Regions from separate parts of the Homo sapiens genome. Here all the other regions are linked to region 4. Evidence: fine-mapped expression QTL. A gene starts in region 4. Each other region holds a variant in brackets. All regions are shown on one strand. Distances are from middle to middle.

Region 1 (4,093 bases), 23 kb before region 4:
TATCTTTTTTATTTTATTTTATTTTTTTAAGACAAGGTCTCACTCTGTCACCCAGGCTGGAGTGCAGTGGCACAATCACGGCTCACTGAATCCTTGACCTCCCAGGCTCAAGTGATCCTCCCACCTCAGCTTCCCAAGTAGCTAGGACCACAGGTACACACCACCATGCCCAGCTAATTTTTTTTTTTTGTAAAGATAGGGTCTCCCCATGTTGCCAAGGCTGGTCTTGAACTCTTGGTCTCAAGTGGTCCTCCTGTCTTGGCCTCCCAAAGTGCTGTGATTACAGACATGAGCCACCATGCCCATCCAACACTGTTAGTATCTTTGCAGACCCTGGCAACCCACTCTCAGGTGCTCTGACCCCAGCAACAGGAATTTTCATCACTCTGGCCCTGTCCTGCTCTGTTTGGGAATGCTATGACAAAATATCATAGACTGGGTGGTTTAAAAACAACAAACATTTATTGCTTACAGTTCTGGGGGCTGGGAGTTCCAAGATCCAGGTGCTGGCAGATTTGGTGTCTGCTGAGGGCCCTAGTTCAGAGTCTTCTTGGTTCAGAGATAGCCATCTTTTCAATGTGACCTCACATGGCAGACAGGACAAGTGAACTCCCTCAATCCTCTTTTATAAATAGCAGTAACCCCACTCATGAAAGCCTCATGACCTAATCAACCCCCAAAGGCCCATCTCCAAATATCCTTTAAAAAAAAATTTTTTTTTAATAGAGATGAAGCCTCACTGCATTGACCAGGATGGTCTCAAACTCCTGGCCTCAAGTGATTCTCCCACCTCGGTCTCCCAAAGTGCTGGGATTAAAGGCATAAGCCACCACACCCAGCCCAAATATCCTTACACTGGGTATTATGTTTCAGCACGTGAATTTAGTGGGGCATAAACATTCAGACCATACTTGCCCTGTGGAGGATGATGAGTGGATGGATGGATGATGACCTATGGAGGATGATGGGTGGATGGATGGATGGACAATAGAGCAACAGACTGATCCCGGCACAGAGAGCTTGATTGGCCTGCTCAAGGACATGTCAGGCCCTTCAAGTACACACAGTCACAGACATGCCTGTGAGGGAGCAGCACACAGGGGCAAGGAGTTTGGACTCTGAGTGACACTACCTGAGTTTAAATCCCAGTACCATCACTCGCAAGTTGTGTAACCTGGGGCCAGTTTTTTCCACATCTGTGTGCCTCAGTTTTCTTATGTAGAGAGGTAGAATTATCATAATATCTTACTCATGAGATGTTAAGAGAAGTAAATAAAATTAGGCTTGTTGAGGCTGGGTACAGTGACTCACGCCTGTAATCCCAGCACTTTGGGAGGCTAAGGCGGGTGGATCAGTTGAGGTTGGGAGTTCAAGACCAGCCTGGCCAACATGGTGAAACCTCATCTCTACTAAAAATACAAAATTTAACTGGGTATGGTGGCACATGCCTGTAATCCCAGCTACTCCGGAGGCTGAGGCAGGAGAAACTCTTGAAGCCGGGAGGCAGAGGTTGCAGTGAGCCAAGATCACACCACTGCACTCCAGCCTGGGTGACAGAGAGAGACTCCATCTCAAAAAAAAAAAAAAAAAAAAAAAAAAAATAGGCTTGTTAATCTCTTAGATAAGGGTCTGGCAAAAAAAAAAATAGTGCTCTCTGAATGTTGGCTAGTATAATTATTACATTTTTTTTTTAACAACAATACCTTACTTTTGCCTTATGCCAAACCTTTCAAAGCCTGTGGGAAATGTTTTCTCATGTGAGCCTGGACCAGTGCCATGTAGTAGACAAGGCAAATATTTATGTCTAGTTTACAAAGGAGTTCATTTCGAAGAGTTCAGGAACATGAGAAATCCTAGAGCCAGGGATGGTAGATGCAGAAGCCAGGTGGGCTGACTAAGCCTGGAGGGTAAGAACTGCCCTGGGGAATACTGTGAAAGATGAGAAAAATCTGTCTTTAGCTCTGCCCCCCTTCACCCTTCACTGCTGCAGCCTGAATTGCTTTCAGCTATGGTCCCCTCTGAGCTCTGATATTGCTGTAAAGGGCTGTTTTTCACAAGCCCATTGCTTGTTTAAGCAGGGCCACTGGAGGGACCTCAAAAACCCTGCAGAATTTACTTGTGATGGAGTTATTCAGGCACTTCTTGAAACACTTGAGGAACTTAACACATTGGCTTTCTAGACAGGTAACTCTAGCAGCTGATGGAGAATAGTTGGAGGCCTGGATTCAGGGAGACGAGTAGGGAGGCTGTATTGATAATTCAGGTGAGAAATATTGATTGGTCTGAATTAAAGCACTAGCAATGGAGGAGAAGAAAAGAGGCTAGCACGAGGAGAGGTAGGAGGTAGTGCTGAGAGTTGACTGAATGAATGTGGAAGATAATGGGGAGCTGGGGTTGGAGCTGACAGGAAATACTTCATAGAGCAGCGGTTCTCAAGCTTTTTTTGTTTTAACATCAGAATCACTTGGTGGGCTTGTGAAAATAGAGATTGCTGGGCCCCTACCCAA[A/G]AGTGGGTGAGGGCTCTCTTCATAGTTCGAAGACAGCCATCTTCCTCTTGTATCCTCACAGGTGTGGTCCCAGAACCAGCAGCATTAGGATCACCTGGGAACTTGTTAAAAAAATGCAAATTTGTGGGCCCCTCTTTTGGGTAGGGGCTCAGCAATCTCTATTTCTCCACCCCACCTCAACTCACTTTATTGGCTTTCTCTTTATCTAGTTGCACAAAATGGGAGTGAATGCAAAGTCACAAGGCCCATTGCTGCTTTGCCATGGCCACCTAATGGTTCAGACCAGGAACATTATCAGGAACCACTATCCTAGAGAACAGCGTGGTTAGGTTTCAATGTAGCTTCTAGGAAGGAATTAGATGCAGATGGGCTGAGAAGATGGAGGAAAGCATGTTAGGTGGGCTAAATGGCATGGACAGTCAGTAATATGAGACTGTGTCCTGCCTGTTCAAGTGGCCTCTTGAGGGCCTGAGTGTGGTAGAGATAAGACTTTTTAAATAACCAGTGCCTTTGCAGTGTATCTGTTTGTGAGCGCTTCCCTTGCTCATGTTGTGATATAGCCATTGGATTTAATGAGTCTTAGTGTGAGTTGTTTCAGATTCAGATGCCAAGAGGATTTAAATGAAATTAAGAAGTGCAGGCAACTCCAGAAAAGAAAGGCATGTTGTACAGGGAAGAGAAGGTGGAGTCACAAAGCCACAGGAAAACTGGGGTAAGTGCAAAGCTCAAAATGATCCCAACCAAGGTGGGAGGCTGCTGGGGTATTAATACAATAACTCTTGAGAGTCATGATTGAGTGCTATATTTGGTGACAGGTGAGGTGTGTTAATTCCTTAGCACTTCTGGTCTGCAGCTTGCTTCCCTGAGTCCTGGGGAAAGAGCCGCAGGCACAGAGATGCAGGTGCTAGCTTTATAAATGGTGGGAATATATTCAAAGGTCCAGGGGAAGACTGTACATAAACACCATCTGGGGTTACCTCTAGCTAAATGCCAATAATGGTCTCTGTTAGGGCTCCTGGTCTGAACCTTTAAGTGGCTATGGCAAAGCAACAATGGGCCTTGTGACCCTGTGTTCATTCTCATTTTGTGCAACTAGAGAAAGAGAAAGCCACTAAGGTGAGTTAAGCTGGGATGGGGAGGAGGATTCCTTTTGGTATTCTAAGGATGTCAGGTATTTAGCCTGTGGAAATAGTGCATTTTAATCTTCCTTACATGTGGGACTATTTTTCTTATTCCAGGAAGTAGAAGTCAGTTCCAAACTGCTAATCAGGTCCTGGGTTTGTTTTGGATATTCACTTGAGATTAGCACATTACTAGTTTATTATCTCATTTTTCTCACTAAAAAATACCATACCTTGGATAGTCTTTTAGAATACTATTAGTCAGTTTGAGCTGCTATACCAAGATACGATAGACTGAGAGGCTTGAACAACAGAAATGTATTTCTCATAGTTCAGAAGGCTGGGAAGTCCAAGATCAAGGTGCTGGCAGATTTAGAGTCTGGTGAGAGCTCTCTTCATGGTTTGCAGATGGCAGTCTTCTGATTAATTCATCACTTGATAGAGAGCTCTAGTCCTTTCTCTACT
Region 2 (4,093 bases), 62 kb before region 4:
GTCCTGCCTCAGCCTCACAAGTAGCTGGGACTGCAGGCGCCTGCCACTACGCCCGGCTAATGTTTTGTATTTTTAGTAGAGATGGGGTTTCACCGTGTTAGCCAGGATGGTCTCAATCTCCTGACCTCGTAATCTGCCCGCCTCAACCTCCTAAAGTGGTGGGATTACAGGTGTGAGCCACCGCGCCTGGCCTAAATAAAAAGTCTTGAAATGGAAGATATTCACCTAACCCTCAACAAACCATGATGTAATGAAGCACGAATCACACCATTTTGTCTCTTTCCTAATTCAAATAGGTCCCTGGCATTAGTTCATGCCGAGACTAGAAAACTGAACCCTAGTACTGTTTTTTAAAACAGTTTTAACAGAAAATTAAACTGTATGTTTGAAATCATAAGTAAAAGTTTGTTGCTTGCATAAGAGTAGCCTCTTGATTCTCATAGTGGTAATTTTGTGTCATATCATTTAGATGTTGAACCATTTCATTTGTGCATGTGTATATGTGCCCAAATTCATCCTCTTTGTTTAGAATCTGCTTACAAATAAAACTAATAGAATCTGAATACATTTATCATATATTCTTCCAGGGTTTTTCTTAACTGACTATAGAGAGTGGCTGTAAGTTCTGGGGCAAAGCTTGATTGTATTTTCAGTGATGTATAGTTACATTGTTTCATGTTAAAATCATCGTGCATGGAAAGTGAAATGTGCGTATGATTTTAAATTATTGTAATATGTACTATACCCTTCCCCTAAACTTCTTTCATTGATGATACACAGAATTCCTCTATTTTTGCTTGAAAATAGTCCTTTAGATTGGAGTAGCCTTTTCTTAGATCCCTCTATGGTTCCATGAGATGAGGTGATACCTGCAAAGCACTTTTAAAGATATTTTTTTAGGCTAATGTCCAAGATACAGCATTGAGGAGGCAGCTATGTCTAATGAGGGCTCTCTTGTTTGCTAGAGATGAGAGAAATGTATACTAATCATTTTAATTTGTACTTAAAATACATTTTACTAATCATATTGATTTTAAATATGACAAATTCTTCTAGTAGATACTAATCTTTCTTGTTTATCATATTGTCCTAGAGAAGCCTAGGTAAAAATGGGTTCCACCTAGTCTGTTTGTATAACACCTTCCCCCGTCCCCTCTCCATCCCTGCCAATTGGGCTCTATGCATATTGACAAGCAAATAAGAAAACCTTAGGTTTCTTGTATTTGAATTTCCAAAACAATAAAAGGTTTTGACTCAAGATTTGCATTCAAGAAGAGGCAGAAATTTTGTCTTATCTTTTTATCATTTTGTGAACTTGTGTTTCTCTGTATGCTTAGAAAATTTTACACACAAGGAATGTTTGAAAAAGTGAGAATTTTAGAGTGCTTGGGTGGTTTTTATTTGGTCAGTGCTGATGTGTTAGGTGTTTAGGGAAATAATGCTTCAGGACCTTTTTGACAACACAGCTTCATGAATGACTGGGGGATATTTATGTTTGTGCTGAGAAAAGGGAGGGAGTGGGCAGGTTGGAGTGGGGACCTTTCCATTGAAAGCAGTGCAGTCAGCTGTTTCGTAGATGCATTTTTTCTTTATGCTTGTAACATTGTTCTTGTGTCCATAATTGACTGAAATGTCAAGCTCCAGGAATGCAAGGCATTTATCAGGTGACCAGAAGTAGAACCTTGTTGATTATGAAATGGAAGAATAATGTCAAGGTAGTGGGGGTAAAATGACAAATGAGATTTTACTGGTGAATTTCCATGCTTAGTATGTACATTAACCTCTTTTTAAGTTGCATGTTAATCTGGTATAACGTATTGTGTCTGGTTTATGCTTTGAGTAAAAAGGAAAAAAAAAGACTTGAGTTACAATTGTTACTCTATTATGTACTATTACATATACCTTTTCTTTTAGAAAGGGTTAATTATAATTACTATTCACACCTCTGTGTTGTCAGTGTTTTTATTCTGGTTTATTCTCTAAACATACAGATTCAGTGTTGGAAAGACTGGGATCCACATGGTAATTGAAAAGGTATGACAGCTGCATTGTACAAATGACAGAAAGATTGTCTTGATCTTCTCTAGGAAACTTTTCTGGCACTTGGTCAATTTATAGAGTGCTCTCTATCTTGTATTTCTGAATGTTAGAATTGGAAATGAGCCTGACAAATAATGATCAGTTTGCATAGTTGATTTCTTTTAAAATCTGAGAAAAGTTCAGTCATTTAAAATGAATATTATTAAAGCGAACATTCATGAGCATAGTTGATAGTAAACAGAAGAAAAAAGGGAAAAAAGCAGGGAGAGAGGAGTCAGCCCCAGTGACATGCTGACTTGAATGTTGTGTTTGTCCCCTCCGCTAGAATGTAAGCCCCAGGATGGCAATTATATCTCTCTGTGCTGAACACAGTGCCTGGTATGTAACAGGTGTTCAATTTATATGTGTTGACGAATGAATGAATGGACTACTAA[C/T]GTTTTTGTTGTTTTTTTCTACCTCTTTTGTTCTCATAGGTAGGTTTTTTTTTTTGACCTATGTGATTGCAGCATACTGCCTCGTTTAATTCTTACGTAACACTTACCTCAATTCTCATTTAATTCTGCCTAACTTCAAAAGAGTTTTTAGGTGACTGTATGTTTTTCTCATTCATTCTTTCAGTAGAAATAGCACTTATTTCCTTAAAAATGGTCTAAAAGCATCATGCAGTGGCAGATATATACAAATTTTATGTATTTGAAATCTGTGTGGGCCTACATCAAGGAATGTAAGTAACATACCAGAGTTTGTTGTCAGCATCTGCAGATACTGAAATAGTAAATGGTATACCAGCTTTTTTGGAAAAACAGCTGTGTCATTTTATTCATCTTTTATGCTTGTTCTTCATTTTTTAATATCTGGAATATCCCCTTTTTGCTAGTAAATAACTTTTGTCCCATGAAATTGATGAGATTTTCACAACATTAGAATAACCTCTAACAGTCCTTTTGAATGTGTTCCTTATGATTGATTACCACCCTTTTGGGATTCCATGAGTTGGGATGCCTAGGTGACCCATTATTTTCATCATTACATACTTTGCATTCTAGCCAGTTATTCTATACCAAAATAGATGTTTACTGAAAAAATCTTTTTGAAACAATTCCAATATATTTAGATCCCCAAATTATATTCTACTGTATTTCCTATATTATTACAAATAACATTGCAATGGCCATCTACTTAGTGTGTTTTTTCATATTTAAAATTATTTCTTCTGGCTGTAATCTCAGGTGAAACTACTGGATTAAATGGTAGGATGGGATTTGAGGGTGCCTATTTCAAATTTTCACTATATGTTAAACAACAAAACCCTTTCCGATTTAATAGAGAGATAAGCATATTGTTATATTTTGCACCTATTTAGTTATTGAGACTATTTTTCTTTGCTGTTTTAATACCCTCTGAATTGTTCTTTTGCTTTATTCATTTATTATAATCTTGGTGTTCTTGTGAATAAATTAAATTCTTAAAACAGTAAATATAAGTATCATGTGCTAACCAATTTCACCACTGGAGCTCTGTTTAAATAGTGAATATATTATCTTTTGTCATGTTTTTGCAGATGTGTGTGCAAAACACATCCTAGTATACTGCTTAAATTTTTATAATTATCTTTTCAGCATATAAAGTGGTGTGTTTTTTGAGACAGAGTTTCACTCTGTCACCCAGGCTGGCGTGCAATGGTGTGATCTTGGTTCACTGCAACCTCCGCCTCCCAAGTTCAAGCAATTCTCCTGCGTCAGCCTCCCGAGTAGCTGGGATTACAGGCATGCATCACCATGCCTGGCTAATTTTTTTGTATTTTTGGTAGAGACAGAGTTTTGCCATCTTGGCCAGGCTGGTCTCGAACTCCTGGTCTAAAGTGATCTGTTCATCTCAGCCTCCCAAAGTGCTGGGATTACGGTTGTGAGTCACTGCACCTGGCCTAAAAAATTACAGCCAGGCTTGGTGACTCACACCTGTAATCCTAGCACTTTCAGAGGCTGAGGTGGGCGGATCACTTGAGGTCAAGAGTTTGAGACCAGCCTGTCCAATATGGTGAAACCCCCTCTCT
Region 3 (4,093 bases), 110 kb after region 4:
CATCCATGCTCGGCAGGCCTATGACCTCCAGAGCGATGTGAGTAATTAAGATCCATGGTAACTGTGCTCATAATAGTAATTCATAGAAATACTGAGACAGTGGTCTAGCATTAGGTAGAACCTTCAGAAGGGATGACATTTCTTCTCTCTGCTCATTTTTTAGGCAACTCTTCCCCTTACTTTTTTTGGAGAGAAAGAAAGTAATACCTGAGACTGTATTCAATTTGGCCTTCATATATTGAAGAACGTATACATGAAATTTGACTATCCAAGCTTTCTAGTGTTATTTTTTTATTTTTGAAATCATGTTAAAACAACTTCAGTAATACTCGCTTTTGTGTTTAATCTCTCCAGAACATTTACAAATCTGATCTCCAGTGGCTGAGAGGCATTGGCTGGGTCCCCATTGGGTCTATGGATGTGGTCAAGTGCAAGAGAGCTGCTGAAATACTGAGTGATAACATCTACCGCCAGCCTCCGGACAAGCTGAAATTTACCAGTGTGACTGACTCTCTAGAGCAGGTGCTGGCCAAGAACAATGCTCTCAATATGAACAAGGTGAGCCCCCAATTTGTAGGAAAATAAGACAGGGCTATATGTCATTCAAGATACCTATTGTTAATTAAGTTAGTCTCTTTTTTAAATCCAATTAAATTGCTATCCAATGTATAGTGATTCAGTTGAATTCTCTATTCTGTTAGATAACAATATATGGGAGCATTTCTGCTTTGACATCTCTTGTGAAATAGCCAGAGTTAAGAATGGCACAGCTCTTTGGGAGGCCAAGGCAGGCGGATCATGAGGTCAGGAGATCGAGACCACGGTGAAACCCTGTCTCTACTAAAAATACAAAAAATTAGCCGGGCATGGTGGCAGACGCCTGTAGTCCCAGCTACTCAAGAGGCTGAGGCAGGAGAATGGTGTGAACCTGAGAGGCGGAGCTCGTAGTGAGCTGAGATCGCGCCACTGCACTCCAGCCTGGGCGACAGAGCAAGATTCCGTCTCAAAAAAAAAAAAGAATGGGACAGCTATTATGGGTTCAAATTGTTTGAAGTCTATAAGAGTTAGTTATATATGATTTGGTATGGTTTCTTTCTTGCTGAGTACTTATTTAGGTAAGCACAGAGCAAACAAGAAAGATGCAAGCCGGGCATGGTGTCTCACACCTGTAATCTCAACACTTTTGGGAGGCTGAGGTGGGCAGATCACTTGAGCTCAGCAGTTTGAGATTAGCCTGGGCAGCATGTTGAAACCCTGTCTCTACAAAAAATACAAAAGTTAGCCGGGTGTGGTGACACGCACCTCTAGTCTTAGGTACTTGGGAGGCTGAGGTGGGAGGATCACCTGAGCCTGGAGAGGTTGAGGCTGCAGTGAGCTGTGACTGTACCACTACATTCCAGCCTGGGCAAGAGAGTGAAACTCTGTCTCATAAAAAAAAAAAAAAAGAAAGATGCAAATCTTCATAACATTTATCAAAAAGAAATCTAGAGATAGCACATACAGGTACATTTGCAGCTAATAAACTAACAACAAACAGCATCAAACAAATAAAATCATGGGAAGGATTTGTTAATATAGTCATACTACAGATATGGATGTGAATATATGCTTGAGAAATACTTGCTTTTTATTTAATTGGGGTGAGAGTGACCTGGTTACCAAACACACACACGTGGGTGTGTATATGTGTGTGTGTGTTTGATTATATGTATATATATATTTTTCTTTTCATATCTTAGTATACATTTATATTTTGTTACAATAAATGTCTTGTAAAATCAAAGAGGTTGAAAAGAATATTAACATACATGGAACAGACAGCAAGAAAGCTGGCTCTCAACTTTGTCATGGTGTCTTAATTGAAAACTCCTGTTTACAACAAACTGTTTTTCTAATTCATTAACCTTTTTATCCTTCACAGCGCTTATACACAGAAGCCTGGGACAAAGACAAGACCCAAGTCCATATTATGCCTGATACACCTGAAATCATGTTGGCAAGACAAAATAAAATAAATTATAGTGAGGTAAGATCATTTGTTTTATTTCTTTGGTCTGGCCACATTGATTGTTGCCGATGTAGGAATGTGAGAATTA[T/C]GAAATTAATCCTCATGTAAGCCAGTTAGCTTAGTTGGCTTTTTATGCCATTTACCCTACCTTGAATATACATATTATTGTATTAAAAAATAGGCAGATAGAAAGGTAGATAGATTAGACAGACAGATAGACAGACAGACACAAAAATATCTTCATTTCAGGAGGGAAAAAATATCTCAAGTCAACTATTAATGACTAAAACATAATTTTCATTAAAAATAATTCTTGCTATTCATCAAATTAGTACTTGCTTCAAAATTTGTGCGGCAAGTTTATTTTCTTCAATTACCTCATCTGTAAAATAGGATTAAAATGCTTACCTTAAAGAATTTTTAAAGAATGACTAAATGAGGTAAAATATTTAACATGCCCAGTGTGAAGCCTGGTGCAAAGTATTTGTTTAATAAACTTTAATGTCTCTCCTTTATGCTCAAGTCACCATGAAAATTAGATGTATTTAATGTGCTCAAAATAACTTGAGCTTTATTTACAAGAACTGAAATGAGAATTCTTAAATTCACCCATTTCAAATTGCCTGAGAACAATAAAATACATTCTTTTATGAACTATCTTCAGCCTTGCTAAACTTGTCATTGCATATCTTTGCAGTCCAGAAATACTGCTGCATAAATAGCGTCTTGCTCAATTGTTCTTGCCAAAGTCAAAAATGTATATGGTTGATTCAAGAAGGATACTAATTTTTTAAACATGTCTATGTGTCTTCATTTTTTTTTAGAGAAAAAGGAAGGCAGAGTTGTCTTCAGTTTGAGAGCACTGAAAAATTTAAGTACTAATTTTTAAGATGACCAAATTTATTACTTTACCCATAATAATTACTTTTGCCTATAATAATGTAGCCTTAAAAAATGGAGAGGGTATGATTTCACTTTCTCCAGCATTATAAAACAGACCAAAGGACAAGCCTGATTATAGATATTTGATTGGCCTTGGCTTCAGTCACTTTTGAATGGGCCATTTTCTCTTGGCCACAGAGCTTCTCAGTTGGATTATCTTCTCCCAGGAGGTTTATTTTATCCAAGGCAGATGAAGTTAGTTTCTATTCCAGATTATAATGAAGCTCTTAATCCTCTCTCATTTGTTTACATTAGGGGAACTGAAGTAGATTTTTTTTTCAGACTGCTGCAAGGATATTGGGCTATTTTTTAATTCTAAAATTTTCAGCTGGATTTACTTTCTTTAAAATTGCATGATCATGCATTGAAGGCTTTGACTTCACCACAGTGCAATATATTAATGTAGCAAAATTGCACTCATCCCCCATGAATACATACAAATAAATAAAAATAAAATTGCATAATGATGTTGATTCTCTGAGGAATCTAAGATCACATTTCAGAATGGCCCACTAGAATTTCTTCTCAACCCATTGCCCGTGGTTCCTTCATTGCATAAATGTAAAACAAAACAAACACATCTGTTTTTTTCCTCTTAAATTCTCATTTACTTATTTTAGTTTTCTTAAGTAACAAGCTTTAAAATACATCCCTGATGATAGCTAAAAGTGTTCTCTCCTTTGAAGCACTGCATCTTTTTTAAATGCTGAAAGAATTAAAGAACTCTATTTTTTTGGCCTGAAGCCATGAGATGATTGAAGCACATTTTTTCCCACTTATACCATTTTTAAAATATGAACATTTATTCCTAAAGAAAAAATGTAATAAATAAAGTATTTGACCTTCCAGTTTCAAAAGAAACATTCCTAGAAATTTTGAAGAAAAACAGATTCCCTCTGGAATTTATCTCAAAGATATTAAATTGATTCTTATTTTTACTTTAGCTTTTTCTTATAAAATCTCATCTTGAAAAGACTATAAACTGACACATCTTAATAATCCACTTTATAAACATAATAGTGACCCTGTAAGAGTCTTAAGTCATTAAAAATATTAAAAAATATTAAATGCATCTGTAGCATATTTAAAATCCAGATACTAGTCCGGTATCCTTAATTCAATCTAATTTGAGAATGGGGTATA
Region 4 (4,093 bases):
TGATTTTTCAGTCTAATAATCCCTAAGGATATTGAGATGTGTATACATAGGAACCCTCATTCTCTGTTAGTGAAACATAAAATAGTGTAAGGATTTTGACTGGCAACTTGACAATATCTATCAATTTTCAAAATGTGCATATATCTTCTGCCTCAGTATTTCTATTTCTAGAAATTTACCTTACAGATACATTTCATATAAGTATACAAAGGTAATGTACAGGGATGCTTACTGTGTGTTTTGTTTCGCATTGTTTTGCTTTATTTTGTAATAGCAAAAACCTCGAAACAACCTAGATGTCCATTAATAATGATTAAACTATTATACTCTATCCAATCAATAGAATTATTTGTGGAAATTAGAGTAGGATATGTTTATGTGATGTTTCATAAAAATGTCTATTGCATATTAAGTATATCGATTTATGTCAATATCTATATTGAAAATATCTGAAACTTAAAAATGACTAAGAAGGTCAATGCTCATTTTTTACTTTATATAATTTTGTACTCTATGTTTTTAAAGTATGGGCCTGTATTATTTTTTAATTCAACAACACATTTTAAAGCATGTAATGACTAGTAAGTCACAATTCTAGTTTGCAGCTACCAAGTGAGTGATCTCATATTACATAAATATCCTTTGGTCATAAGACCTGTGAGAACATACAAGATGAACAGGTATAATCAGTTAAGATGATAAAATTCTGTTAGATTTTATTTACTACCATGTGAATCATGGAGGGGGAAAAGGTACATGTATTTGAAATATGAGATTACTTTCTCAAACTCCTGGCCTCAGACAATCTGCCCGCCTCGGCCTCCCAAAGTGTTGGGATTACAGGCGTGAGCCACCACGCCCAGCGAGATTACTTTCTAATGTTTAACTTAAAAAAGAAAAAATATTACAATATGTTTAATCTCAAATCCATATCAAGATATAGGTGACTCACAGGGTTTTGCCTGAATACAGGAGCAACCCAGAGAAAGAGCAGTTCTCTGTCACATAAGAGCCTGTGATTTCTGTCGCTGTGTGTAAGGACAGACAGACAGACAGATAGAATTAGATTTTAAATTAGAAAAAATACTTCAGGAGCAAAGAAAGTGCAAGAAAGACATCAGGCAAGTTTTAAGAAAATGGTTAGATAATTTTTATGAAGGAAATGTCTTACGTTCGGATTTGCCAAATAGGGCATTATTTTCTCCTGATAAGTTACTGATTTCCATGTTATCTGCTCTTGCTGTTCAGAAATTGAGCCTGTTTGTGTCCGCATTCACACGTTGCTTCTGGGAGCCAGGAGTCATCTGAGTTAATAGAAAAATCACTAACTCGGTTACATATGAGAGAGGTTCTGTATTCCTAGCAGCTTGCCTTATCTAAGGAGGGAGAAGGTGCTAAATAGGATTTTGGTATACCCTCTTGGTTTAGTAACAGAAAAATGATGGGGTCTAATCTTTCTAATTACACCCTGTGGATATCTTATTTAGTGCCATTGTCAAATATTTTCACCTTTAACTTCACTCATCACATTTTTAAAAATTGCTTTTGTCAACTTGATGTTTACTGGGTCTTATTCCTCAGTTTCTTTCACACTAGCACCAGTAACTTACCTGTAGCTCACCTGGTGAACCTTACCAGAGTGAGTACATTTACCACCATGACTGGACAAATGACATGAAGAAAGCAGTCACGGAAGGGTTAAAGCCTCTCAAAGTCATGCTTATTTTCTACTAAATTCTTTTGCATGAATATGACATTGAATGGGGCCTCAGTAAATGGGAAATTCAACCTAAAATTGAACTGCACAGGCTGGAAGTTAGGTAAAATTTGATTCCATTTGAATTGTTCTAAGCAAGCAATTTGTTACCCTTTATCCTTTAGTGGAATTGATGAACAGGTGGTTTTCAGAAGATCACTTGGTAAATTTAGCTTCTGAAATTTGAGCAACTCAAGATCTGATTGGTTGCTCTTGCCACATGATAATTCGGAGCCCAGGCATCACGCTGGCTTTTGCCTGGGGTTCTCAGGAGGGGAGAGTTGGGAGAGGCTTTGCTGCTGAGGAAATTTATTTGGTAGATTGAAGGTAAGGCCAGTTTATGACTTTTTCTGTAATACTCTTTCAGGAGATGCTCCACAACTTCCCTCGAAGTATTTTTCAAAGGTTTGGGCCATAACTGAGGAAATTAGTGGTAGAAATATGGCTAGGAGAGTTTAACCCCATTGCCCTACTAAGGCCCTACTAATATCTGCTATGTACCGTGTGTGATTAGAGTCAAGTCCTTTGCTAACCAATTTATTGCTTGACTGAATTGGCTCTCTTGTCTAACATTTTTTTGCCTTTGATATTTTTCTCTAAATATATTAGTGTGAAAAAGAAGATACGCTGCTCTACGTTCCTATATTTATCCTGTTCTACTGGGCTTCATTTGCCTGAGGAGTGGCAGTTTCGCTAGCTTAACAAAACCAGCCACTGCAGGGTATTGGTTTACATGGCAAACATCTTTGGATGAAGGGACAGCTGTTCCAACTCATCATCCACTTCATATCAAGAGTCTTACTCTCTGGCGTCAAACTGTAGAGGCCTTGAGAGATCCTTTCGCTGTTTTCTGCATTAGAAGCTTAGGCTAAGGACTGACAATCCTATATGTACCTCAATCAATGCTTTACAACTTTGTTATTTTTCAGGTTTGAACGAGAGCTACAGAAACGAAAGAAAAAGTCTGTATAAGCCAATGGTGTTCGGGAAGAAAATAACCCCATTGCCTTGAGGTTTCTTTTTTTCTTTTAAAATTTATTGACAGATGTATTTTTATGGGTTCCAATTTGAAGCCTAAGATATATTGCAAACAGTGGATCAGGGCAGTATGGAAAACTAAGTCAGCCCTCTTAGAATTTTGGTGCTGGGGGATAAATTTCAGCTTCTTCTGAAACCCAAGCTGACCTTTCACTAAAATTTTTGCTGGAAAATGTCTTTTCTCTAAGTGTTTGGAAGTTTAAATTCTCTGTTCCCTGAGTCCAAACTCTCTCACTTCCTTACCTCAATTTCGTTTTACAATTTTAACTAAACTGATTATGTAGAAGTAGCAATTCCCAACACTGAAGGAATAAAGAGAAAGAAATTTGAAGCTTCTGCTGTTTATACTTGTATTTTAAATGTCTTCTCTCCTTTAGCCTGCAACAATATATGAATTTGTACAATAGTTTAGCTTCAAATTCTATTTTTATAATGTCATAAGATAATTTCTGTGCTGGGAATAGACTCTAATATGTTTTCATTTGTATGGAATATGAAAAGTTTGTAGGTGCCACTACTACTCTGGAAAAATGGCAGATGACGAAGACTATGAGGAGGTGGTGGAGGTAAGATTTAAAAAAAAAACACTGACAGCAAACTATTTTATGTAGTGACAATCAAAGCTGTGTAGGTGAATTAATCATTCGAAAAATACATTGTCTATTATAACTTCACAAAGAGTCATCATTTAAAGCATAAGAAAGGAATATTTTATGTTCAGTTTCACTATAATTATGTGGGATTTAGAATTGACAGGAAATATCACTGTTTCCCACTTTTGCTTTTCTTTAAGCTCTCAAAAAACCAAGTTGGAGTAAAGGCAGGTTTTAATTCGTCTTCTAAAACTGCTTTCTTCCCCACTTCCCAACCCCGATGTTCAAAGGGACAGAGACGAAGAGAAAGTTCTGAAAATGGAACTCTGTCTCTTAGTATCTGTATAGCAATAGAAGAAAAGATCTACTCCTTATTCTTTGCTTCAACTAGCTAATCATCTATAGGGTAACATGGGTTAGATATTCAGAATAATCATATGTATGAAATTATATGCAGATGTGAGACTTTATACATAATACATACACATGTGCACAGACACACACATACAAGCAAATATAAATAAAGGCATGAAGGTCACAGCGATTGTTGGAGCCACACCTTCCTACCAACTTCATTATATTTACCCAAGTCAACAAGACTAGCTTTTGCTTTTGAATTTTGAATAAGAACAAAGACTATAGTGGGTATCTTGAAAATTTTCCTTCCAATTATTAGTGGACATCTAACACATTTTACAAAGCTGTT
Region 5 (4,093 bases), 44 kb before region 4:
AGTGGCTTTCCAAAAGGGAGAGGGAGTAGGTGGTGGTGCTGTGAGGAGATAATAATGACCTTGCCCTTGGGCCCATCTCTGCAGGGGAGGTGGTGTAGGCTGGTGGTGATGGGTCCAGGGTTTCAGCTGGATTCAGTTTTGAATCTTCTCTTGATCTTGTTATATAATTTGGAGCAACTTACTCTGCCACCTCTCTTAGCTTCTCTTTTCTGCTTCACAACATCCACTTCATATGAGGATTAAATGAGGTCATACCAATGTGGGAAAAAGAAAATTCTCTTTAAAAACCTAATTTCAGATGATTTCATGTTAAAGGGACTCGACCAAGGAAAATGTATCCTTCTGTTTTGGGGCCATGTACTTCTAGAAGGCAAAGCCCCAGCTGCGTCTGGATGTAAGGTCAAGAGAAAGAGGGCAGTAACACTAACTGGCTCTGAGTAAGAAGGTGGGAGACTTTTACATTTTCTCTTTGAAACTCAAGAAAAGGAGTTTGGACCCTGGAACTGGAGGAAAAGGAGAGAGGAGGAAATGGCCAAAGTGATCTTTGCCAACAGGCTTGTTGGATGATGAAGTAAAGGTTGTTTTCTCTTTCACACTCTGGTTTTTTGTTACCTTTTCCCTAGTCTTCAGTGAAGCTTTACTACTTCCTTAGACTTGTATTAGCACCGCCTAGACTTGTATTAGCACGGGAAGGTCACATTCAGAGCAAGCTGAACAGAGAATCAAGTACAGAGTTTAGAGCAAGGAACAGGAGCGAGGGTGAGCGAGATCACCGGGAAAATGTAAGTTCCTCTCTGGAGCTCCTTGGAAACAGTAGAGAGAGAGCTGAGCTTCTCCTCGTTATCAATTTATTTACATTTTCTTGTCTTTGTATTTATTTGAGCCCAGATAACTGGAAGACTGGGGACAGGTGAAACATACTTCCCCACTGAGCATGTCTACTGCTACCACCTTAGTATAAGTTATCAACACTTGGCTTGGATGACTGCTATTGCCTTTTAACTAGTTTCTTTGAATCTTTTAGGTTTTTTTTTATTTTTTATACTTTAGATTCTGGGGTACATGTGCAGAACATGCAGGTTTGTTACATAGGTATACATGTGCCATGGTGGTTTGCTACACCCATCAACCCGTCACCTACATTAGGTATTTCTCTTAATGCTATCCCTCCCCAGCCCCCCACCCCCCAACAGGCCCCCATGTGTGGTGTTCCCCTCCCTGTGTCCATGTGCTCTCATTGTTCAACTCCCACTTACGAGTGAGAACATGTGGTGTTTGGTTTTCTGTTCCTGTGTTAGTTTGCTGAGAATGATGGTTTACAGCTTCATCCATGTCCCTGCAAAGGACATGAACTCATCCTTTTTTATGGCTGCATAGTATTCCATGGTGTATATGTGCCACATTTTCTTTATCCACTCTATCATTGATGGGCATTTGGGTTGGTTCCAAGTCTTTGCTATTGTGGATAGTGCCGCAATAAACATACGTGTGCATGTCTTTATAGTAGAATGATTTATAATCCACTGGGTTGGGTATATACCCAGTAATCGGATTGCTGAGTCAAGTGGCATTTCTAGTTCTAGATCCTTGAAGAATCACCACACTGTCTTCCACAATGGTTGAATTATTTTACACTCCCACCAACAGTGTAAAAGTGTTCCTGTTTCTCCGCATTCTCTCCAGCATCTGTTGTTTCCTGACTTTTTAATGATCGCCATTCTAACTGGCATGAGATAGTATCTCACTGTGGTTTTGATTTGCATTTCTCTAATAACCAGTGATGATGAGCTTTTTTTCATATGTTTGTTGGCTGCATAAATGTCTTCTTTTGAGAAGTGTCTATTTCCTTTGCCCACTTTTTGATGGGGTTGTTTTTTTCTTGTAAATTTGTTTAAGTTCTTTGTAGATTCTGGATATTAGCCCTTTGTCAGATGGATAGGTTGCAAAAGTTTTCTCCCATTCTGTAGGTTGCCTATTCACTCTAATGAACTCTCTCTTTTTTTTTTTTTTTTTTGAGACAGTCTCACTCTTTCACCCAGGCTGGAGTGCAGTGGTAAACTCTTTCTCTATTGCAATTCCCCTGCCTTGATAAATTGGCTCTATCTGGGAAGCCGGCAAGAACCCACAGGGTGTTTACATTACTATCTGTCTTCATGAAGGCAAAGGCTTTGATTTTCTTCATAAGCCCCATCATGCAGCTAGCACTTGGCTTAGTGACTAAACCCTCATAGGCACTCAACAGACATTTGAATAAACATGTCCTGGGCAGTGCTGTCCAATAGAAGTAAGATGTGTGCCACATATGTAATTTTAAATTGTTGAGTAGTTACATTCAAACGTAATAAGAAACAATAAAGTTAATTTTACTAATACATTTTAATTACCCAATATATCTAACATGTTACCACTGCAACATGTAATCAGTATAAAAATTATTGAGATATTTTACTTTTT[T/G]TGTGTTAAGTCTTCAAAATCCATCGTGTATTTTACATTCAGAGCACATCTCAATTTGTATTAGGTGCCTTGCAAGTGCTCCATAGCCTAAAGTAGCTAATGACTCCTGTACTGGACAGGGCAGGTCTGGAGCCTCCTAGTGTTCAATATATGCCAGTTGATAGATAATAGCACAATGCAAAGAATTGGAGAAAGAAAGTTTTATTCTGAAAGCTGCCGTACCCACTGGTTGATACGGTGACTATGAGACTTCATTCACCTGTTAACATCTGGAACAGCAGAAAGACCTAAAGTGCCCATGATGAATGAGTAAGGACACTGGACCAGGAGTGAGGTGAATATGCAAAAGCCTGTGTCTCCCAGAGCCCCAAAGAGACAGGAGAGCAGAGGACACCCAAAGAGCAACAGGCTTGTTGCACCAGTGGGAAGACACAGCAGGCAGCAGGCTTTGCTGAGGAGTCTGCCAACAGAGCATCTCAAAGTGCAAACCAGGCTGGGCACAGTGGCTCACTCTTGTAATCCCAGCACTTTGGGAGGCTGAGGTGGAAGGAGCACTTGAGCTCAGGAGTTCAAGACCAGCCCGGGCAACAAAGTGAAAAATCTTGTTGCTACAAAAAAATTTTAAAATTAGCCAGGTATGGTGGTATGTGTCTGTAGTCCCAGCTACTTGGGAGGCTGAGGTGGGAGGATCACTTGAGCCCAGGAGGTCAAGGCTACACTGAGCCATGATTGTGTCACTGCACTCCAGTCTGGCTGACAGAGCAAGACCCAGACACCAAAACATACCAAGGACTAAACTCTGACCATTTTTCTCTCTTGTCTAAATCCCTACCTAAGGGGTCAGAGAAGTCACACAGTACAAACAGAAAGTCTCAGAAGATGGATTTTATTTAACCCTATGTAACATGGATTACTTTCCAACTTGACTCTCATAACATCACATGACAGATGAAGAGGGAAACCAAAATGTTTTACCCCAAAAATATGTTTCATCACCATATTTAGAAATAGCTCTGTAAAGCTGTTTTTTTGGGGGGGAAATTTGCCTCTGTAAAGAATCTCCATTAACATAACTAGGTCTTTCCTCTACCAGGTCCTCCCAGTCTTGAAGAGATTAACTGAGAGTCTCGCACCTCTTAAAGGATTGAATAGGAAACATTTGCCATCTATGGTCTGAAAGGCCTGCCACCTATAGACTACTGGAAACTGCCTGCTTCACTGCATAGTAAGAACCTTGGAGCCACAACCCCTTATCTTAACCCAGACACTCCTTTCTATTGATCCCAGGTTTTTAGATAATAACTTAACTCTCAGCCAATCAGAAAATCTTTGAATCCACCTGTGACCTGTAAGTCCCCACCCTTCAAATTGTCCTGCCTTTTGGGACTTAACCAATGTATACCTCACATGTATTGATTGATGTCTTTTGTCTCCCTAAGACATATAAAACCAAGCTGCAACCCAACCACCTTGGGCACATGTTCTCAGGACCTCTTGAGACAGTGCTGTGGGCCATGGTCACTCATATTTGGCTCAAAATAAAACTCTTCAAATATTTTACAGACTTTGGCTCTTTTCACTGACAGTACTGTTCTGGGATTTGTCGTGGCAGGGTATGTGTCTTAGTCCATTTTTTACT
Region 6 (4,093 bases), 36 kb after region 4:
AAGGCTACAGTAACCAAAACAGCATGGTACTGGTACCAAAACAGAGATATAGATCAATGGAACAGAACAGAGCCCTCAGAAATAACGCCGCATATCTACAACTATCTGATCTTTGACAAACCTGAGAAAAACAAGCAATGGGGAAAGGATTCCCTATTTAATAAATGGTGCTGGGAAAACTGGCTAGCCATATGTAGAAAGCTGAAACTGGATCCCTTCCTTACACCTTATACAAAAATCAATTCAAGATGGATTAAAGACTTAAACGTTAGACCTAAAACCATAAAAACCCTAGAAGAAAACCTAGGCATTACCATTCAGGACATAGGCATGGGCAAGGACTTCCTGTCTAAAACACCAAAAGCAATGGCAACAAAAGCCAAAATTGACAAATCGGATCTAATTAAACTAAAGAGCTTCTGCACAGCAAGAGAAACTACCATCAGAGTGAACAGGCAACCTACAAAATGGGAGAAAATTTTCGCAACCTACTCATCTGACAAAGGGCTAATATCCAGAATCTACAATGAACTCAAACAAATTTACAAGAAAAAAACAAACAACCCCATCAAAAAGTGGGCGAAGGACATGAACAGACACTTCTCAAAAGAAGACATTTATGCAGCCAAAAAACACATGAAAAAATGCTCATCATCACTGGCCATCAGAGAAATGCAAATCAAAACCACAATGAGATACCATCTCACACCAGTTAGAATGGCAATCATTAAAAAGTCAGGAAACAACAGGTGCTGGAGAGGATGTGGAGAAATAGGAACACTTTTACACTGTTGGTGGGACTGTAAACTAGTTCAACCATTGTGGAAGTCAGTGTGGCGATTCCTCAGGGATCTAGAAGTAGAAATACCATTTGACCCAGCCATCCCATTACTGGGTATATACCCAAAGGACTATAAATCATGCTGCTATAAAGACACATGCACACGTATGTTTATTGCGGCATTATTCACAATAGCAAAGACTTGGAACCAACCCAAATGTCCAACAATGATAGACTGGATTAAGAAAATGTGGCACATATACACCATGGAATACTATGCAGCCATAAAAAATGATGAGTTCATGTCCTTTGTAGGGACATGGATGAAACTGGAAATCATCATTCTCAGTAAACTATCGCAAGAACAAAAAACCAAACACCGCATATTCTCACTCATAGGTGGGAACTGAACAATGAGATCACATGGACACAGGAAGGGGAATATCACACTCTGGGGACTGTGGTGGGGAGGGGGGAGGGATAGCATTGGGAGATATACCTAATGCTAGATGACGAGTTAGTGGGTGCAGCGCACCAGCATGGCACATGTATACATATGTAACTAACCTGCACAATGTGCACATGTACCCTAAAACTTAAAGTATAATTAAAAAAAAAAAAAAAGAGATGGAGACCATCCTGGCTAACACAGTGAAACCCTGTCTCTACTAAAAATACAAAAAAATTAGCCGGGCATGGTGGCAGGCACCTGTAGTCCCAGCTACTCGGGAGGCTGAGGCAGGAGAATGGCATGAACCCAGGAGGCAGAGCTTGCAGTGAGCCGAGTTTGTGCCACTGCACTCCAGCCTGGGCAACAGAGGGAGACTCCATCTCAAAAAAAAAAAAAAAAAAAATTAATGAAGTACTGATACAGGGTACAACAAGGATGAAGCTTGAAAACATGCTAAGAGAGAAATCAGAAAGAAAAGATCACATTTCATGATTCAGTTTAACCATTTCAAAGTGTATAATTCAGTGGCATTAATTACATTTACAATGTTGCACAAATAATACCATCTCATTCCAGAATTTTTTTTAATCCCCCCAACCATAAACCTCATACCTATTCTCCCTTCTTTCCAGGCCTTGGCAACTACAGAGTTTTTGGTGTGTTTTTGTTTTGCTTTTTTGAGATGATGAAATGTTTTAAAATTGATTGTGGTGACAGTTGCACAACTCTGTAAACATACTAAAATCCATTGAATTGTATACTTTAAATTGGTGAATTGTGTGGTATATGCATTAAATCTCAATAAAGCTGTTACAAAAAAAAGAAAGAAAAAAAATTTTTTTGAGTTTGGAATGTATGAAACTTAGGCCTTATAATAATTGCTAACAGAACAGTCTTATAATTCATGACATTCCGTGTTCGATTGTCAGGTTTTTTTCTTTTTGTTTTGTTTTGTTTTGTTTTGTTTTGTTTTGAGACGGAGTCTCGCATTGTCGCCCGGGCTGGAGTGCAATGGCGCCATCTCGGCTCACTGCAACCTCCGCCTCCCGGGTTCAAGCAATTCTCCTGCCTCAGCCTCCCAAGTAGCTGGGATTACAGGCACCCGCCACCATGCCCAGGTAACTTTTTGTATTTTTAGTAGAGAGAGGGTTTCACTTTGTTGGCTAGGCTTGTCTCAAACTCCTGACCTC[G/C]TGATCCGCCCGCCTCGGCCTCCTAAAGTGCTGGGATTACAGGCGTGAGCCGCCGCACCTGGCCTCAATTGTCAGTTTTTAAGACAGTTGACAGGCGATATCTTTTCTTCATCTTTTGTTTAGTGTTAGAAAATGTAAGTGTTATAATCAGCGTGGGAGTGACAGGAATCTACTTTAACTGAATTTTTTTTCTTTGACAGAAACTATACAAGGAAAACTATGAAAAGACAAAAGCAAAGAGCATAAATTACTGCGAGACCCCCAAATTCAAGCTCGATACTGTTCTGCAGAACTTCAGTAGTGATGTAAGCAATCCTACTGTCACTCTTTCTGTTAAAAAAAGAACCCATTATTTCACCAATTAATAAATGAAGTATGTTTTGTCTTGCAGAAAAAATATAAAGATTCCTACTTAAAAGATATTTTGGGACATTATGTAGGCAGCTTCGAGGATCCATACCATTCACACTGCATGAAAGTCACAGCTCAAAACAGTGATGTAAGTTCTAAGACAATTGTTTGACTTTCCAAATAACATTTTTCTCAGGGCATGAATACAATGGCTGCATCTTATGCCTAATTTCTTCTCCTCATAGAAAAACTACAAAGCAGAATACGAAGAAGACAGAGGCAAAGGCTTCTTCCCTCAGACCATAACTCAAGAATATGAAGCAATTAAGAAACTAGATCAGTGTAAAGACGTAAGTCTGTAGTCTGAACTTTGAATGTGACTGCCTTCCATAGCATCTAGTGGTCAGGATATGTTTAAAATGTTGCCACTTTTACAAATAAATGTAAGCCAGGCAATCGCAAGAAATGAAGTCTATTTTGTAGTAAACATCCTATTTTCCCTTGTTGACATCCCTACATTTTAAGAGGTAATTCTAGCTCATTTTCCCAAAGAAGAGTTATTGGAAACCCGAAGATATAGGAAAGTTTCTCATACAGATATAAGAGCACCTCTCAAACTACAGTCTAGTTAGAAAAAAATATATTTTATTAACTACAAGTTTCATTGCTTTGTGGGGCATGAGGTTCTATTTGCTTGGCCTGTGGGCCACCTTGGATCTGACAGGTGATACTACTAAACCAAATGCCTTTGCTTCCCCACAGCACACCTACAAAGTCCATCCAGATAAGACAAAATTCACCCAAGTTACAGACTCTCCTGTTCTGCTACAAGCCCAAGTCAATTCCAAACAACTGAGTGACGTAAGTTCCTCTAACTACTCAGGACACCCAATTATGAGGGATAACATTTCATAACTCTATACATAAAATCCAATGACTTATCAAGTTTATTCAAAAGGCTAAGTAAGTATTAGCAAGTTTAAACAGTATACATTTGTATAAAAATATATTTCTGCATTTTCTTGGGTGGATAAAATTTACAGTGAAACAATTCTGTGAAGGAAACAAATGTAGCTTAAAGCAATGGAAAGAACATGAGTTCTAGAGTCAAACAAAACCGCATTCAAATGTTAGCTCTGTCATTGATGTCTGGGTGGCCAAAGATTTAACCCCCCTCTGCCTGATATTTCCATTTTATAATTTGTGGCTGTTTTGAAGAGTAAGTGAAGGAAGAAATATGCACTGCACATACCCTGGCCAACAGCAGGTATTCAGTACATGAATTTCTCTCTCCCTAGTAAGTTTCTGGAAATTGGAATC

Which allele goes with the higher level. Positions count from the first base shown, and alleles are read on the strand shown. Sizes are in standard deviations (SD) of each study's normalised expression. Not every link is listed here.
As copies of C replace T in region 2, the expression in prefrontal cortex of the gene that starts at base 2,005 in region 4 goes up (large effect, 0.78 SD a copy in ROSMAP).
For the expression in adrenal gland of the gene that starts at base 2,005 in region 4, allele C in region 3 goes with a higher level than allele T (moderate effect, 0.50 SD a copy in GTEx).

What was found. PIP is the estimated chance that this variant, and not a neighbour inherited with it, causes the effect. A credible set is the group of variants that fine-mapping cannot tell apart.
Region 1: its variant is the best candidate, but not a certain one, in a credible set for the expression of NEB in blood mononuclear cells (TOPMed, PIP 0.82).
Region 2: its variant is the best candidate, but not a certain one, in a credible set for the expression of NEB in prefrontal cortex (ROSMAP, PIP 0.51).
Region 3: its variant is the best candidate, but not a certain one, in a credible set for the expression of NEB in adrenal gland (GTEx, PIP 0.74).
Region 5: its variant is the best candidate, but not a certain one, in a credible set for the expression of NEB in whole blood (TOPMed, PIP 0.55).
Region 6: its variant is the best candidate, but not a certain one, in a credible set for the expression of NEB in prefrontal cortex (ROSMAP, PIP 0.81).

Annotation. Positions count from the first base shown.
Region 1 is chr2:151,755,805-151,759,897 of GRCh38, reverse strand. No RefSeq gene overlaps it. Among named protein-coding and RNA genes, the nearest start is that of NEB, 23 kb to the right of the region's middle. The variant A/G (reference allele first, on the strand shown) is at 2,508.
Region 2 is chr2:151,794,512-151,798,604 of GRCh38, reverse strand. No RefSeq gene overlaps it. Among named protein-coding and RNA genes, the nearest start is that of ARL5A, 32 kb to the left of the region's middle. The variant C/T (reference allele first, on the strand shown) is at 2,475.
Region 3 is chr2:151,623,467-151,627,559 of GRCh38, reverse strand. It overlaps NEB (nebulin), which reads left to right. Exons shown (of 182, transcript NM_001164508.2): 69 at 1-37; 70 at 355-558; 71 at 1,922-2,026. Among named protein-coding and RNA genes, the nearest start is that of NEB, 110 kb to the left of the region's middle. The variant T/C (reference allele first, on the strand shown) is at 2,097.
Region 4 is chr2:151,732,388-151,736,480 of GRCh38, reverse strand. It overlaps NEB (nebulin), which reads left to right and starts at 2,005. Exons shown (of 182, transcript NM_001164508.2): 1 at 2,005-2,083; 2 at 2,686-2,769; 3 at 3,296-3,360. The coding sequence starts at 3,325.
Region 5 is chr2:151,776,182-151,780,274 of GRCh38, reverse strand. No RefSeq gene overlaps it. Among named protein-coding and RNA genes, the nearest start is that of NEB, 44 kb to the right of the region's middle. The variant T/G (reference allele first, on the strand shown) is at 2,455.
Region 6 is chr2:151,696,178-151,700,270 of GRCh38, reverse strand. It overlaps NEB (nebulin), which reads left to right. Exons shown (of 182, transcript NM_001164508.2): 14 at 2,623-2,727; 15 at 2,814-2,921; 16 at 3,019-3,123; 17 at 3,536-3,634. Among named protein-coding and RNA genes, the nearest start is that of NEB, 36 kb to the left of the region's middle. The variant G/C (reference allele first, on the strand shown) is at 2,423.